Linked DNA regions of Homo sapiens. The protein of the gene in region 2 purifies or fractionates together with the protein of the main gene of each other region. This does not show direct contact. Each region holds a gene or a part of one and is shown on either strand. Other genes may lie near its edges.

Region 1 (3,566 bases), on a different chromosome or scaffold from region 2:
GGTCTTGAACTCCTGACCTCAAATGATCCACCCACCTCAGCCTCCCAAAGTGCTGGGATTACAGGTGTGAGCCACCGTGCCTGGCCCACCTCAGCTTTCTGACAGGGCCCAGCAGCAGCATGTGGCACCTCATCAACCCACCACTACCCTGGATTTAAAGCGTCTCATTTAAAAATGTACATAGCCCCCAGGGCAATTCCCCCTTTAAGTTTCTCAGTGAGCACCTGAGGCGGTTCAGAGTCAGGTAAGCTGGGGGGTGAACAGAGATTATCCAGGGCAAGCCCTCAATTCACAGATTGGGGCCAACAGATCCTCTAGACCCTGGGACTAGGTCAGCCATGGCTAGGGCTGCCCATGAAAGGTCTCTAAGTGGAGCTATGTGGATGTAACCTCTTCTGCAGCACAGGCAGACAGGAGGGGATGCTGCCCAGGACTGGGTGAGAAAGAACTTCTGAGGCCCAGAAACAGCCAGCAGGCCTGGTGGTGTCCTTGCCGCGAAGCAGGAGTACTGCCTTACTTGGCTGCATGAGTGGTTTCTGGAGGCTGACAGTGCTGGCGTTACAGGACAGCAAGGCCAAGGTCTGGGGCTCCCCCAGCCCTGTGTTCATCTCACCTTGCACAGGCCACCAAGCACCCTGGACTTCAGGCATGCATCTGTGAGTGACAAGGAAGGTGCTAGAACCAGGCCCTCTCGCACCCTCACCTCACCTATACCCTTTGTGCTGTGGAGTAGCTGCTTCAGAAGTAAAAGCAACCTTGATCCAAGTCATTGTTGCTACCCTCAAGCCAGGACCAGACGGAGGCCCAGCCTAGCTTTGAGCACACAGCTGCAGGCACAGCCGTGAGTCAGCTCCAACAGCGCCCTGGCCATTCTGTGAGATGTCTGCACAGAGCACAGAAGAGGGGCCCAACCTAGCCCGGGTTGGGAAGGAGCCTTCCATGGAGGAGAGGACAGTGAGCCAAGTGTCCTCGAAGTGAGCCAAGTAGCTCAAAGGGTAGGTGGGGCGGAGGAGGTGCGTTTAGGCAGAGGAAACAGCATGTGTGAAAGCAAGGAAGGAAGGAGGGAGGAATCTGGGACTGCAGGACCATCAAGTGCTGGGGGAAAGGTGGGTAAGGCCAGGTCATGGGGAGCGGGGGGTGGTGCTTCAGCATCAGGAACTCAGACTGTTCGTGCAGGTGACGGCAGGAAGAGGAAAGACTGGAGATGGTGACTTTCACCCTCTAGACAGAACACACAAGGGCATAGACCCAGAGAGGGGCTAATGCCTTGCTTAAGGCCGGTCACGCACACTGAGCTGGGATGAGAGTGGAGGCTTCCTTGGTCCTGGTCTAAGGCCTCTCCCACCTCACCATACTGAGAGAACTAAGAACAAGACTAGGAAGCATTTCTGGGAGTTGCTGAGGAGGTGGAGCTGTGGTGCAGGAAAGGGAGGTCAATGGGGTGGGCCACAGCACCCCACTGTTTGCAATGTGCAGGGCTGTGACTCTCTCCACTTTAGGCACCACCAGTAAGGCCCCAAGAGCGCCTGGCTCACCCACTGCCACGGACCTCCTTTGGTCCCCTCCCAGGTCACTTTTGCTGGGGCGCCAGACTGAAGTGCCTTGGGGCCTCCTTGGCCCCAGCGGAGCGGTTTCCTTGGTCTTGGCAGGGCCTCAGTAGGCCAGGTAAACCAGCAACAGAGGGTGAGGGTTTTTGAATGTCTAAATCACTGGACACAGTCTGAGGAAATCATCCTCATTTCTTAGATACACGTAAAAGAAGACAAACTAAACAATGTTGGCTTTCTCTCAGTCTTTCTTCCTCCACTGACACGATGGAGGCCGTACCTGTAATGGCGGGTGTCCCGGATGGGCCGGTCTGGGCTCAGCTTGTCACTCTCCAGCTGGTTGAAGGCGTGCTGTCTGTAGGGGTCCTCTCCAGCCTTCAGCTGCTTGGCCGACAGGTAGGCCTTCTCATCAAAGCCTTTCGAGGGAGTTCCTGTCACCTGAGATGAAGGTCAGCATCAGAGAGGACCACAGGCAGGAGGACCCCACTGCTTGGCGAGTGCTCAGCACACACCAGGCGGGAGCCAGCCACGTGGCCTCATTTGTGCCTTACGCCAACTCTATGAGGAGGAGACCATTATCTCCCCCACTGTACAGAAGAGAAAACTGAGGCTCAAGAGGGTTTCTTTTTTTTTCTTTTTTTCTTTTTTTTTTCTTTTTTTTGACACAGGGTCTTATTCTGTCACCCAGGCTGGAGTGCAGATCTTGGCTCACTGCAACCTCTGCCTCCCAGGTTGAAGCGATTCTCCTGTCTCAGCCTCCCAAGTAGCTGAGATTACAGGTGCGCACCACCACGCCTAGCTAATTTTCATAGTTTTGGTAGAGGTGGAGTTTCGTGGTGTTGGCTAGGCTGGCCTTGAACTCCTGACCTCAAGTGATCCACCCACCTCAGCCTCCCAAAGTGCTGGGATTACAGGCATGCGCCACCGCGCCCGGCCATCAAGAGGCTTTTTAAAAAGCATCCAGGGTCAGAGCTATTAAGTCACAAGGTCTGGATTTAAACTGGTCATTCCGACTCCAAAGCCCATGCTCTTAACCAATGTTCTTTGCGGGATATTGGGGGGGTGAGTCCTGGAGTGCACCAGACCTCTAAGGCAAGGTGTCCTGAGGGGACTACAAACCAGAATGGATGCTGCCAAGCGCCTGCAGATTGACAGTCTCCTAGGCAGAAACTTGGGCCTAGCCCTGGCCTAGGCATTATATGAGGCACCCGATCAGTAAAACACCAGGGCTTGGACAATCTGCTGCATAAAGAACTACCTGTAAGGACAGCAAACCCCTGCAGGCTGATGCCAGAGCTACCAGAACTCAAGTGCTCAGACAGTGATGCATCTTCTCTGGGACTTTTGCTTGCTCCTGAAATGGCCCCTGTAAGATCCACTGGTCCCCAGGCACTAAGTGCTGGGCAGTGATGGATGGCAGATGCCATTGCCCATCCCGTTCCTTCATGGCCACACCCTACCCTGTGCTCCCAGAGTCTCCAGCAACAGACACTGGGGAAGGACACATCTGAAATTAACAGATGGATGCAAGCACCCTGACATCTCATTACTTGAACCAAACTGCTGGCTGGATGTTCTCCAGAGTGCCATGAAATATCATCAACTGTGGGTACATCCCAACTCCAACTTTCCGCCCAACCATCAGCCCTGGGCTGAAGCTGGGGCCCCAGAGGAAGCAGAAAGGAGGGTGAGAATTGCCCACTCACAAAACTCTTGCATGAGGATGCTATCACAGGCCTAGTCCTAGAGGGATGGTCCCAGCAAGGCAGCTAGACCTGTGGGGAGTGGATCGCTGTGTGGAATGACACTGGGACTGTCACCAGCAGCTCAGGGCCTCTATGTTCCCCTGAGAGCCTAGCCCCCGACCTCACTGGACAGGCATGCCCAGGGTCCGGGGAGCTCTGATCTCCTGAACTGCTGCCACTCTGTAGCGATACTACCTTCTAGGGTTGCCTCCTGTCCTAGGAGCCAGTTGGAGGTTCCCTGAGGGCAGAACAGTGAGGGAGATGTCCTCGTGTC
Region 2 (3,566 bases):
ACAAAAGCATCTCTAAAAATGTCATTTACTGGACTTGACAGTATAATCTTTTCGGCTTTTCAATTGCAGGTATCATACAGATCATTTTATTTTATTAACTTTTTAAGCACTTGGCTCAAGCAACTTTGGAAGAAGGCTTTGTGAGCTTACAAATCTTATTCCAAGTGTTATTTTTTAAACAGTTACAACTAAAACGAGGTCTTACCTTTTCAAAAGAGGAGAATAAAGTTTTTCTTTTATAAAAATTGCTCCCCAAACTCACAAACACCCAAACCGACATAAAAAGTTGGTCTATCTTCTTAGGAATCAATAAGAAGTGAGGTTACAGGGGAGAGGGAGGAACAAGCATGACGGTTCCTGTGAAATCCATCCCACCGAGCAGTCACTCTTATGTTTCCAGTTTGGCCCTCGGGAGTTTTCCTAAAGGAAAACTCAGTCATCTAAGCCTATGTTTCTGAAAAGGTAGGACATGGACTCCCCATTGTGGATCCGACGGATCGCCTCTGAAAGGATCATGCTGATATCCACAGTTTTAATCTTGGGGCACTGGAGCTTCTGGACTTCATGTGGAATTGTATTGGTGACCACCACCTGTGAAGCAAAAGAAAAAAAACCACAGCATCAGAAAGCCAAGTAGCTTCATGGTTTGATCTGGAAATGTGACAGCTTCTCAAATCTGAGGCTTGCCACGACAGGAAAACACAGTGGATCTATGTCTCAAGTCAATGTTTCAATTATTTATTTATTTATTTATTTTTAGACGGAGTCTTGCTCTGTCGCTCAGCCTGGAGTGCAGTGATGCCATCTCAGCTCACTGCAAGCTCTGCCTCCTGGGTTCATGCCATTCTCCTGCTTCAGCCTCCCAAGTAAGCTGGGACGACAGGCGCCCGCCACCACGCTCAAGTAATTTTTTTGTATTTTTAGTAGAGACGGGGTTTCACCGCGTTAGCCAGGATGGTCTCGACCTCCTGACCTCATGATCCACCGGCCTCGGCCTCCCAAAGTGCTGGGATTACAGGCGTGAGCCACCGCGCCCAGCCTGTGTTTCTTAGGTTAAGATTTGATAACCTCACACCCACTAGGATAGGTATGGCAAAAAAGATAATAACAAGTACTGGAGGGATGCAGAGAAACTGGAGCCCCCCCCCAACTCACGGCTGTGGGAATGTAAAATGGCGCAGCTGCTTTGAAAAACAGTCTGGCAGCTCCTTGAAAGTTTAAACATGAAGTTACTGTATGACCTGGCAGTTCTAAACCTAGGTACGTATCCAAGAGAAGAGAAAACACATGTCCACACAAAAACTTGTACACAAATGTTTACTGCAGCACCATTCATAAGTTAAAAAGTAGAAAAAAAATTTTTTCTATCAACATGAAATACGAAGAGAGAGACAAAATGTGGACTATCCATGTAACACAGCATTATTTGATCATAAAATGAAGTATTGATTCATGCTCCAACATGGATGAACCTTGAAAATATTATGTTGAGTGAAGACAGCCAGACACAAAAGACCACACATTGTATAATCTCATTTATATGAAATGTCCAGAACAGGCAAATCTAGAGAGACAGAAAGCAGATTAGTGGTTCCCAGGGACTAATGGCAGTGAGAGAAAATGTGAAGTGACAGCTAATGGGTATGGGGTTCCTTTCTAGGAAGAAGAAAATGTTCTAAAACCAACTATGGTAATGACTGCACAACTCTGAACATTCTAAAAACCAATGAGTTGTACACATTATTATTATTATTATTATTATTATTATTATTTGAGACAAGAGTCTCATTCTGTCACCCAGGCTGGAATGCAGTGGCACAATCTCGGCTCACTGCAGCCACTGCCCTCTGGGTTCCAGTGATTCTCTTGCCTCAGCCTCCCAAGTAGCTGGGATTACAGGTGTGTGCCACCACGCCCGGCTAATTTTTGTATTTTTAGTAGAGACGGGGTTTCACCCTGTTGGCCAGGCTGGTCTCCAACTCCTGACCTCAGGTAATCCACCTGCCTCGGCCTCCCAAAGTGCTGGGATTACAGGCGTGAACCACTGCACCCAGCCCTTGAATCGTTTCTCAGCCACAAAAGATCTCAGTCTTGTCCTGACTCTCTGTAACTAAAGATCAAGATGTGCCAAAAGCCCAGGCAGCTGTACCCACACACACCCAGACCCTGTTACCTCATCAATGGCAGACTCTTCAATCCGCCGGGGGGCGTCAGAAGACAACAAGCCATGAGTTGCCATCACAAAGATCTTATATGCACCTCTTTCCTTCAGGGTCTCTGCTGCAGCAAGAAAGCTGTCAACATCATCAATGATGTCATCCTGCCAAAGCACAGATGGAAAAGAATGTATATGAGCACTTCTACAATAATAGGTTAGACAACCAGGAAAAAAAAAGGGTCTGCCTACATTTACCGTGAAAAATCTGCTCTTCCACTTGGCCTTGTGCAGACGGCATGGCCCCATGTCCCCATCACCGTGCCCCATGGCAGCCCTCCAGTACTTTCACACGAGCCTCTTCCTGCACAGCACCTGCCACTATTGGAGCTATCTCCCACCACACTCCAGGCTCCCAGGGGTAGCACTGTTTTCTGCACCATAACTGGCCAACATTGTGCTGTCACAATGCAGGTCACACCAGAAATGATGGAGGTATAATTTTCTTTTTTTGTTTTTAATGCACAGAAAAAGTGTTAAAAGATGTTTTTGACTCTGGGTAATAGAATTATGGGTGCCTCTTTCCCCCCACTTCTTCTTGCTACTTTCCTTATTTCCAAATTTTCTCCACTGAGCATATGGGAAATATGTTTTTTTACATGTTATTACAATGGAAAAAATAATAATGATTATTGTTTTTAATAATAAAATACCCAGTTCAGTGGTTTCCAATCTAGAGACTAGATTCCCAGGCTCCCAGAGTTATTTTAAACCCATTATGGCATCAAACGTTGTCTAGAGTTGAATAAATATTCGTGTCTTTATTTTACATACATATTATTACTCTTTAATTGCATACTGATGTTACTATGATCAAAAATATACATATAAAGGCCAGGCGTGGTGGCTCATGCCTGTAGTCCCAGCACTTTGGGAGGCTGAGGTGGGAGGATTGCTTGAGCTCAGGGGTTCAAGACCAGCCTGAGCAACATGACGAAACCCAGTCTCTACAAAAACAGAAAAGCAAAAATTAGCCATGCATGGAGGTACGCACCTGTAGTCCTAGCTACTTGGGAGGCTGAGGCAGGAGGATTGCTTTAGCCAGGAGGTAGAAGTTGCAGTGATCTGTGATCAAGCCACTGCACTCCAACCTGGGCAGCAGACCCAGACCATACCTCAAAAAAAATACATACACACACACACACGCTACTTTAAAAGTCCTACTAGTAAAATGGTACAGCCACTTTGGAAAACAGTTTGACAGTCTCTTATAAGAGTATATCTGCAACTACCATGCAAACCAACAACTGCATTTGTAAGTGCAATTATCCCAGAGAAATTAAAACTCTGTTCACACAAAAACCTATACATGAATGTACATAGCGAGTTTTATGTATAATAGCCCCAACCT
Region 3 (3,566 bases), on a different chromosome or scaffold from region 2:
CATCATTTTTTTAAAACCTGAACTACTGCTGGCAATAGTCTATAAACTGGGCTCAAACTTTTATTGATTTTCTGTGTCTGGTTATAAAAATAGGAAGGGTCCAAGGCAACAATTTTAGAAAATAAAACCAGAAATCAGTTGGGATATTCCAGCCCAAAGACTGCCACCTAATAGACTGTTCCCCAGTTTTTCACCATTACTAAAGTGAATGCAAAACTTTCGTATCACTGTATTCTTACCTAAGGCTTCCCACTGCCTATAGGATAAAGTATAAGCCCCATTCAGGGAGCATTTACCTACTTTCCCAGTCTTATGACCTGCAATTCCAAGAGTATCATCCTCACAGATACTCTTTGCTAACACCTCTCCCTTTATCTGCTATGCAGACTCCTCTAAATCCTAACACTGCTCAAAAGTTACCTCTTGTGTGAAATATCCCTGGCTTCTCTCCTGTCTCACTGTGTCCTCTCCTTTAGGCCTTTCGTAGCTACCTCTTATAAGCCTGTATTGTTTTGCCCACTCTTAGAAGGTCCTACAAGCAGAAACTGTCTCTTACACATTTTTGTGTTGCCATACCGAACATTATGGCCTGCCACTTATTGGGCACTCAACCTCTGCATGTTGAAAATGTACTTTTAAAATGTTAACTCAAAATGTTTAGAGTTAAGGGGGAAAATATCCTCAATATATTCAAAATGCACAAACATAGGTTCTCAACTAATTCAAATTCCAAAACTTTTAGAAATATTCACTCACTGTTGCCACAGGACACCTGAGAGAGCTAACACCTGATAATTTGTAACCATATAGGCTACTACTAAGTCTACCACTTACCCTCTGATTTTTAAAGAAAAGCATTCCTTAGTCTGGGCTGAGTCGACTGCTTTATAGCTTGTCCCTCAAAAACATAATTTGAGCTAAAGGCCAAATAAAAATATATACTATATGACCATTTATATAAATTTTTTCAAGCATAGCCAAACTAATTTAATGTGTCAGAAGGTAGGATAATGGTTTCCTTTGGGAGCACTATACGGAAACGGTTGGGAAGAGGCAAGAGAAAGGCTGCCGGGATGCTAGAAACCTCTTCTTGACTTGGGTAGTGTTTACACTGGTAGGTTCACTATGTGGTAATTATGACTTGTGTACTTTTCTGTATTTGTCCATAAACTTAAAAAATTTATACTTGAGAAGTTTGTTCTCTAGTAATTGTTGATAATGTGTCTGAATAATTATGTGTTTACTCATAGGGGAAAAATGAAATTGGATTTTATAAAAGGCAAAGTAACTCAATCAGCACAGTGGAACTCTACTATATTTTAATTCATCTTGGTTAAAGAAACATCTAGATCAGGTTTTAACATATGATCCACCACTTTTAGACTTATTACATTGTATAGTCCATCTTAACTATACCATTTCTAATTTCCAGTAAGACAGCTCAGTAGTTAAGGTAACATCCAAAAATTTCTTTCATAGCCATCAACAATTTAAGTCCCCCTGCCCCTTTTTAAAAAAAACTATCAGTCATGCCTGACACAAACAACTGCTTTTCATAATCTTCCCAAATAATTTCTATATTGTTCCATCTTATTGGCCTTTACTGTTTGTAATTCCTGCTTTATGAGAAAAAAATTTCAATAGGGTTTCCTAATTTGTTAATATCTTTTCATGTGGCAAAAATACTAACTCTAAGATATGCTTGTTTTCTCCCAAAAATGTTTCTGTCCAGTTATACCAATGAAATTGGTCCACTTTCCTTTATTAAAGGAAAATTTAAGTATGCTATCAAATTCTCTAGTCAAATTTTAACCTGAGGTTACCTCAGACTGTGCAATGTGTACCTGCACAAACTGAATGTGGTCATCATCACTGCCAAACACCTCAGCCTGTCCATCTAGTAGGTTCCCATCAAGCAGCTTGTGATCAGCTGAGTAGTACAAGGTTTGAACCTGCAAAACAGCAACAGAACACCCATGTGGCTACGGTCACCATGGCTACTCCACTAGTATGCAGATTACACAAACGCCTCAAGGTAACCTCCAGTGTGCTTCTTGAGCTTCTTGACATATTACTCTGGCAGGATCCGGAGGTAAAGAAAAATACATGTCATGGTGGTAAAAATTAAAAAACAAAAACAAAAAACCAAAATCAAATACAAAATCTTCCAATACTGGCTGAAGAGTCGTTGGCTTGATTGGCTTGAAAGAAATCTTCATTTTTTTCATAGCTTCTATCATATAACAGTAAGAAAAAAAGCACTAGTACAATATATACTCTTAAAGAATATACATATTTACAATAAAATACTGAATATAGTTTACACCTTTGCAGATAAGTGGTCTGGTTTGCATAAACATATTTCCTTCCTGTAAGCAATGTCAAGAAAAACAAAGAAAAAACAAATGCAAAAATTCAAGCAAGCTGTAGAGTCATCTCCATTGAGACAGATGCAAATACATGGCAAATGCATCTGACTTTCAAGTGGGAATCATAGAATTTAAAGATAATCTGTTAGCCCTTTTAGACCATAATGATGACAGTGTTTCTGCAGGCCTAACAGATTTGGTAAGCCCTCATAAAGGAACTCCGAAAGGTTTAAGTGGAGAGAGAAACTCAAGGTTACTCCACTGCTCCACCTGCGTGTTTTCAATTCCCACCATTTCTCCATCAATTTTATCTTGTGTATTTTTTTTAAAAGTAGCCCAAGTTAAGTGAGTGACTATATGTATGAACAACACCATTGAAAAACACACAGCTTTAAAGACAAGAATCCTGTAAAGGAGTAAACACCATTAAATCATCATCGTTCTCTGCCCACAGCGGATTTTTCTTAGGAGAACTGGGGCAGGACTGCTGCTTCTTTACGTGTCAATACACTTGAGGTTTCTTCTTGTTTCTTCAGTCTTGGGTATCCTAGTTTTGTTAATAAACCTATGGGGAGATAAATCAATGGGGAGGAACAACCATTAGAAGCTTTTACCTACTTGTCAAATTTAAAGCAAAAACCTGTGAAGAAAAATTAAGAATCTACAGAAAATTTCAGTACCACTTCCCATTTCTAAAGCAAATTACATGCTACTTTAAAGAAAGTTAACAGCACATAATAAGCAAAGAAATAAAAAAAGAAAAGCAGAAGACCAAACTGAACAGTTCATTCAGCTCACCTGGACACCCCCCCTGTTTCTCAGCTTAGGGGTACCTATAGCAAAATTTAAATTCTTTAGGGTCATGGTTATAAAATAAAAGTGAAAGGGAATCCTTCATGTTATAGCAAAATAATTTTTAAAAATGGTTGAATCCCATTTACTTTAAAACTAACCTCTTCCATCAGCTCTTCCAGACTGTCTCCATTCTCCCAGATGCTACGCTGCACCCAGTTGATTACCTTTGTATATAATTTGCCATTGCTGGGCAAGCAAACATTATCTTCAAGCATTACCTCCAACTAGAATTGGGAAAAACAATGACATGGATCAGTGTTGGGCTCCTAGTTCTCAGCTTAATTCCCAATTTCATAATAAAGTTGTCACAGATGCACAATTCATTCCATACATTTACTCTAA
Region 4 (4,192 bases), on a different chromosome or scaffold from region 2:
GCCAGGCTGGTCTCAAACTCCTGACCTCAAGTGATCCACCCGCCTTGGCCTCCCGGAGTGCTGGGATTACAGGCGTGAGCCACCGTGCCAGGCCTGTTTTTTGATTTTTTTAATAGGCCATTTTAAGGACTTTACCACCTGGAGCTTGTAACCTAATAGGACTGTGAAACATACACTGGTAGCATCCTGGCACCAGTGCTGGGGTGAGTGCCACAGGAGAGGAGCCAAGTGCAGTCAGAGTAGAAGGACTCAAATAGAAGAGATCACATCTGGTTGAGTCAAACAGTAAACGTCCCCAGAAGACACTGGAAGATGCAGGCTGGAGAGAGCTACACTTTACATACAGCACGACAGTATAGAGATATTAATAGCATACAGTCACTTCAGGTAACTACAAGTAATTTTAAAACATCTGAATAAGTGCTTCTTTGTTGTCTGTGGAGTGCTACACAATGCTTCGGCCTAAACGTCAAGCAACACAGAAAAGAAGCCCCACTTCATTTGCAGCCTCAGATAGCTTACGAAATTGAGACACCACCTGAAGACCATGACCCATACAATCAAAGTGACTTCATGGAAGACGAGTAACTGCAAAACCCTGTGAAAACAGATTGTTAACGCTACTAATGAAAAGAACTGGATTGTTACGGGAACCTCAAACTGTCCTTTGATCAACGGACATGACGCCTCAACACGCATTTTCCAAAGATCTCTGCTGATAATTCTGACCTTCGGTTAATTTAATTAATTTCATTTGATTTAATTCATTTTAGTGTTGTCCTCAGTCCCGCACTCAAAACAGATTTTTATTATATGAAAATCTTCCTAGTCACCTAAAAAATCCGCATTCTATGGAAAAGACTATATAATTTTTCAAGAGATTCTTTGCAATTTTCACCTATGCTGGTTTATGACCTAGTTAGAGAAGACATCATAGGGCATTATTTAGGTAATAAAATACAGAGAGAAAAGAGCCACTGGCATTTCTAAATAACGTTCCTGTGTTTCCTACTGTAAGTATAGGAAAGTAGGTGTTCGCAGATGCAGAGAAAGGGCATCTCCAAGGCCTCGGAGGAAACTTTTGATTTTATAAATAACTTGATGGTGGAAGGCAAACGCCATCCCGGTTCCCAAGCAGGCTCCACGCAGCCTCCATGGCCGAGTCCATCTCCTCGCCGTCCTCTTCCCTCCTCCCGGCCGACTTCCAGCCGGTGCGGGAGTCGGGGTGCGCCCGGCCCTCCTAGCGCTGCGCCGCCCGCGCCGACGTGGCGGAGCGCACAGGTCGACCGGGTCAGGTGGTTGGGTGACGCCCCAGGAAAGCGCTCCAGGCCGAGGGCGGGCGGCGCCGCCGCGCCCGACGCCTCTGGGGGTGGGGACTTCGCGGGAGTCGCCGGCGGAGGCGAGGAGGAGCTCTGCGCGGCGCGGCGGGCGATCCGAGCCGGGACGGGCTGCAGGCGGGGGTGCTGCAGAGGACACGAGGCGGCGGGCTGGAGACATGGACCGCGGCGAGCAAGGTGAGGGCGCGGACCCAGCGGGCTTGGGCTCGGGCTTGGACTCGGGCTTGGACTCGGGCTTTGGCTCGGCGCGGGGCTGAGCGCGGCCCGGCGGCTCGAGCAGGTGCCGAGCCTCCTGGGCCGGCGCCGCAAGTTGCATCTCCCGGATCCGGATCTGGCATCCTGGGGCCCTGGAAGGAGCGGCTCTGGCGGGGGCAGATGGGACTGCATGTGTGAGTGTGAGTGTGCGTGTGTGGGGGAGAGGGAGAGAAGGTTCTGGGAGGTGGCGAAGGGGCTAGCGTCAGGGGCTGGCGGCCGTGATGCGCTTTGGGTGGAAAGCCGCGTGAAGGGAGCACGGCGCAGCCAGCTCCTGTAAGTGACTGGAACCAGGAACAGAGGACAGTGAGTCGCTCTCGTCCCTCCAGGTGGGAAACCCCTCTCTCCCTCATAAATTAAGACTTTCTGCCTTCTTCTAAGTTCAGGTGGTTAGGATTTTTGGTGGCGTATGACCCATGGGGGGTTTGGGAGGCAGATATTTATCATACTAGAAACCCCCAGATTGTGGAGTGGTGTCTGTGGGTTTGAGGGAAGAGAGCTTTTCGTAGGAAGGGTGAAATCCCACAACACAAAACCTTCAGTCTAATTTACCATAGCGTTGGGTGCACTTGCTTCTGAAAACAGCTCAAGTGAAATTACCCCCAAATAGAGCAATAGTAGGCCATGGTTTTCAGATTTAAATAGTTTCATCCTAGAGATCTCTGCTGATCATAAGCCTGTGACTGTACGCAGATGTGTGTGGCACGCTTTTAAAAAGATACATAAATGCTGAAAAAAGAAAACAAGGTAGGTAATCTTGGGAAGTGAGGATAGGAATCACTCCTGTTTTGAGCCCTGACACAAGTTTTCATGTATTGCTTATTTTCCTCCAGTATGTGCCGTCATGTGTGCATTTTTATGTAAATCAAACCATATTCCAAATATACTATCTTGTACTTTATTTTTTTCAGACTCTGGTGTTTTTTTTGTTTGTTTTTTTGAGTCTCCACCTGTAGCCCAGGCTGGAGTGCAGTGGCGGGATCTCAGCTCACTGCAACCTCTGCCTCCCTGGTTCAAGTGATTCTCCTGCCTCAGCCTCCCAAGTAGCTGGGATTACAGGTGTGCGCCACCACAGCCCGGCTAATTTTGTATTTTTAGTAGAGACAGAGGTTTCTCCATGTTGACCAGGCTGGTCTCCAAGTCCTGACCTCAGGTGATCCACCCGCCTCAGCCTCCCAAAGTGCTGGGATTACAGGTGTGAGCCACTGGGCCAGGCCTGTACTTTACTTTCATTTACTTGTAAGATAGACTCTTTGGAGTCTTTCAGCTCTTTCCTCGCTCCCCTTCAGATTAATTTCAGACTTAACACAAGTGCTTACAAACATTACATACAATATGCTTTATATGTGTTACCTATGTGTATATATATATTATACATTACCTGTATAACGTATATATACACATACATATTATTATCTAAATTTTAAGCTTCTTGAGGTTAGAAACATTTCATCTTTGGTTGTCCTGAGTGGGATAACATGATGACTTGTACATAGTAGACATGCAAATGTTTGAGTTAGAAAGCTTGTCACATGTCTTGTATATATTGTTAGCCGGCTTAGGGGCCACCATGTAAGTCAGCATTATGTCTGTCTGGCTTTCAATGGGGGCGACGCAGGACGGGGGAGACATGACGACAAACGTGCCCATGTGTATTTGTATACTAATCTGTTACACACTGTCGTTTGACATAATGATGTTTTTAGAATAACTATGTTTGGTACTTGTCAAAGTAAATTAAACGGCTGTGTTTTACTTACGTGAGTGGAGTAACTAGTTTTAGTAGTGTTTGTGTTCTAGCTTGGGTGGTAAGAATCAACAGTCATTGGTAGCACTGCAGTATTCCAACTTCTTGTGTAGTTTTTATAGGACTAGTTTAAGTGTCTAATTCTAAGACATATTTTTTTCAAATCTTTATCTTGTAAGATGAGTCTTTTCGTGTCTATAATTTTCCCATATGTTCTTTGGGTGAGGTGGAGGACTCTGCTCCGAATGAAAGAAGAGGCACTGCCTTGGGAGGGTCAGTTCATTTACTCCAAAGCTTTGCTGTGTTAGAACAACGTGGCCAAGGCTGGGTGCGGTGGCTCACACCTGTAATCCCAGCACTTTGGGAAGCTGAGGCAGGCAGATCACTTGAGGCCAGGAGTTTGACCCCTGTCCAACAAGGTGGAACCCTGTCTCTACTAAAAATACAAAAATTAGCTCGGCGCGGTGGCACCGGCCTGTAGTCCCAGCTATTCAGGAGGCTGAGGCAGGAGAATCACTAGAAACTGGGAGGCAGAGGTTGCAGTGAGCTTAGATCAAACCACTGCACTCCAGCCTGGGCGACAGAGCGAGACTCTATCTCAAAAAACAAACAAACACAAAACAAAACCACCTGGCCATTCCTTACTCTTGCTTCCACCTGCCTACCTGCCTTTTCATCTTTATGTTACCAGTGCACACAGTAGGTGCTTAGAAATATGTGTTGACTGCCTAAGATGAGTGAGGAAAGTGTCCAAGAGCAGGCCCCAGCCATAGTAACCTCTGTGTCCCTCCAAATCCATCTCTTGTTTCCCACTTTCTCCTGTTCTGTTTTCCCTGTCTATTCTCAAGAAGCAGAA

The links.
Region 1: the proteins of PRPSAP2 (region 2) and GALNT16 purify together in Homo sapiens (affinity purification with mass spectrometry; 2 studies listed by BioGRID and IntAct, with this or other methods). This does not show direct contact.
Region 3: the proteins of PRPSAP2 (region 2) and IVNS1ABP purify together in Homo sapiens (affinity purification with mass spectrometry; 2 studies listed by BioGRID and IntAct, with this or other methods). This does not show direct contact.
Region 4: the proteins of PRPSAP2 (region 2) and TPD52 fractionate together in Homo sapiens (co-fractionation; one large-scale study listed by BioGRID). This does not show direct contact.

Annotation. Positions count from the first base shown.
Region 1 is NC_000014.9:69,319,130-69,322,695, reverse strand, and holds part of GALNT16 (polypeptide N-acetylgalactosaminyltransferase 16), read right to left. Parts: intron 1,986-3,566; coding exon 1,828-1,985; intron 1-1,827. UniProt on the Homo sapiens protein: Catalyzes the initial reaction in O-linked oligosaccharide biosynthesis, the transfer of an N-acetyl-D-galactosamine residue to a serine or threonine residue on the protein receptor.
Region 2 is NC_000017.11:18,927,565-18,931,130, reverse strand, and holds part of PRPSAP2 (phosphoribosyl pyrophosphate synthase-associated protein 2), read right to left. Parts: intron 2,321-3,566; coding exon 2,174-2,320; intron 592-2,173; coding exon 433-591; 3' UTR 1-432. UniProt on the Homo sapiens protein: Seems to play a negative regulatory role in 5-phosphoribose 1-diphosphate synthesis.
Region 3 is NC_000001.11:185,303,692-185,307,257, forward strand, and holds part of IVNS1ABP (influenza virus NS1A-binding protein), read right to left. Parts: intron 3,449-3,566; coding exon 3,323-3,448; intron 2,937-3,322; exon of another isoform or gene 2,797-2,936; coding exon of another isoform or gene 2,794-2,796; intron 1,953-2,793; coding exon 1,845-1,952; intron 1-1,844. UniProt on the Homo sapiens protein: Involved in many cell functions, including pre-mRNA splicing, the aryl hydrocarbon receptor (AHR) pathway, F-actin organization and protein ubiquitination.
Region 4 is NC_000008.11:80,168,747-80,172,938, reverse strand, and holds the start of TPD52 (tumor protein D52), read left to right. Parts: upstream 1-1,374; 5' UTR 1,375-1,495; coding exon 1,496-1,514; intron 1,515-1,817; exon of another isoform or gene 1,818-1,918; intron 1,919-4,192. Other genes in the region: TPD52-MRPS28 protein, read left to right, coding at 1,496-1,514.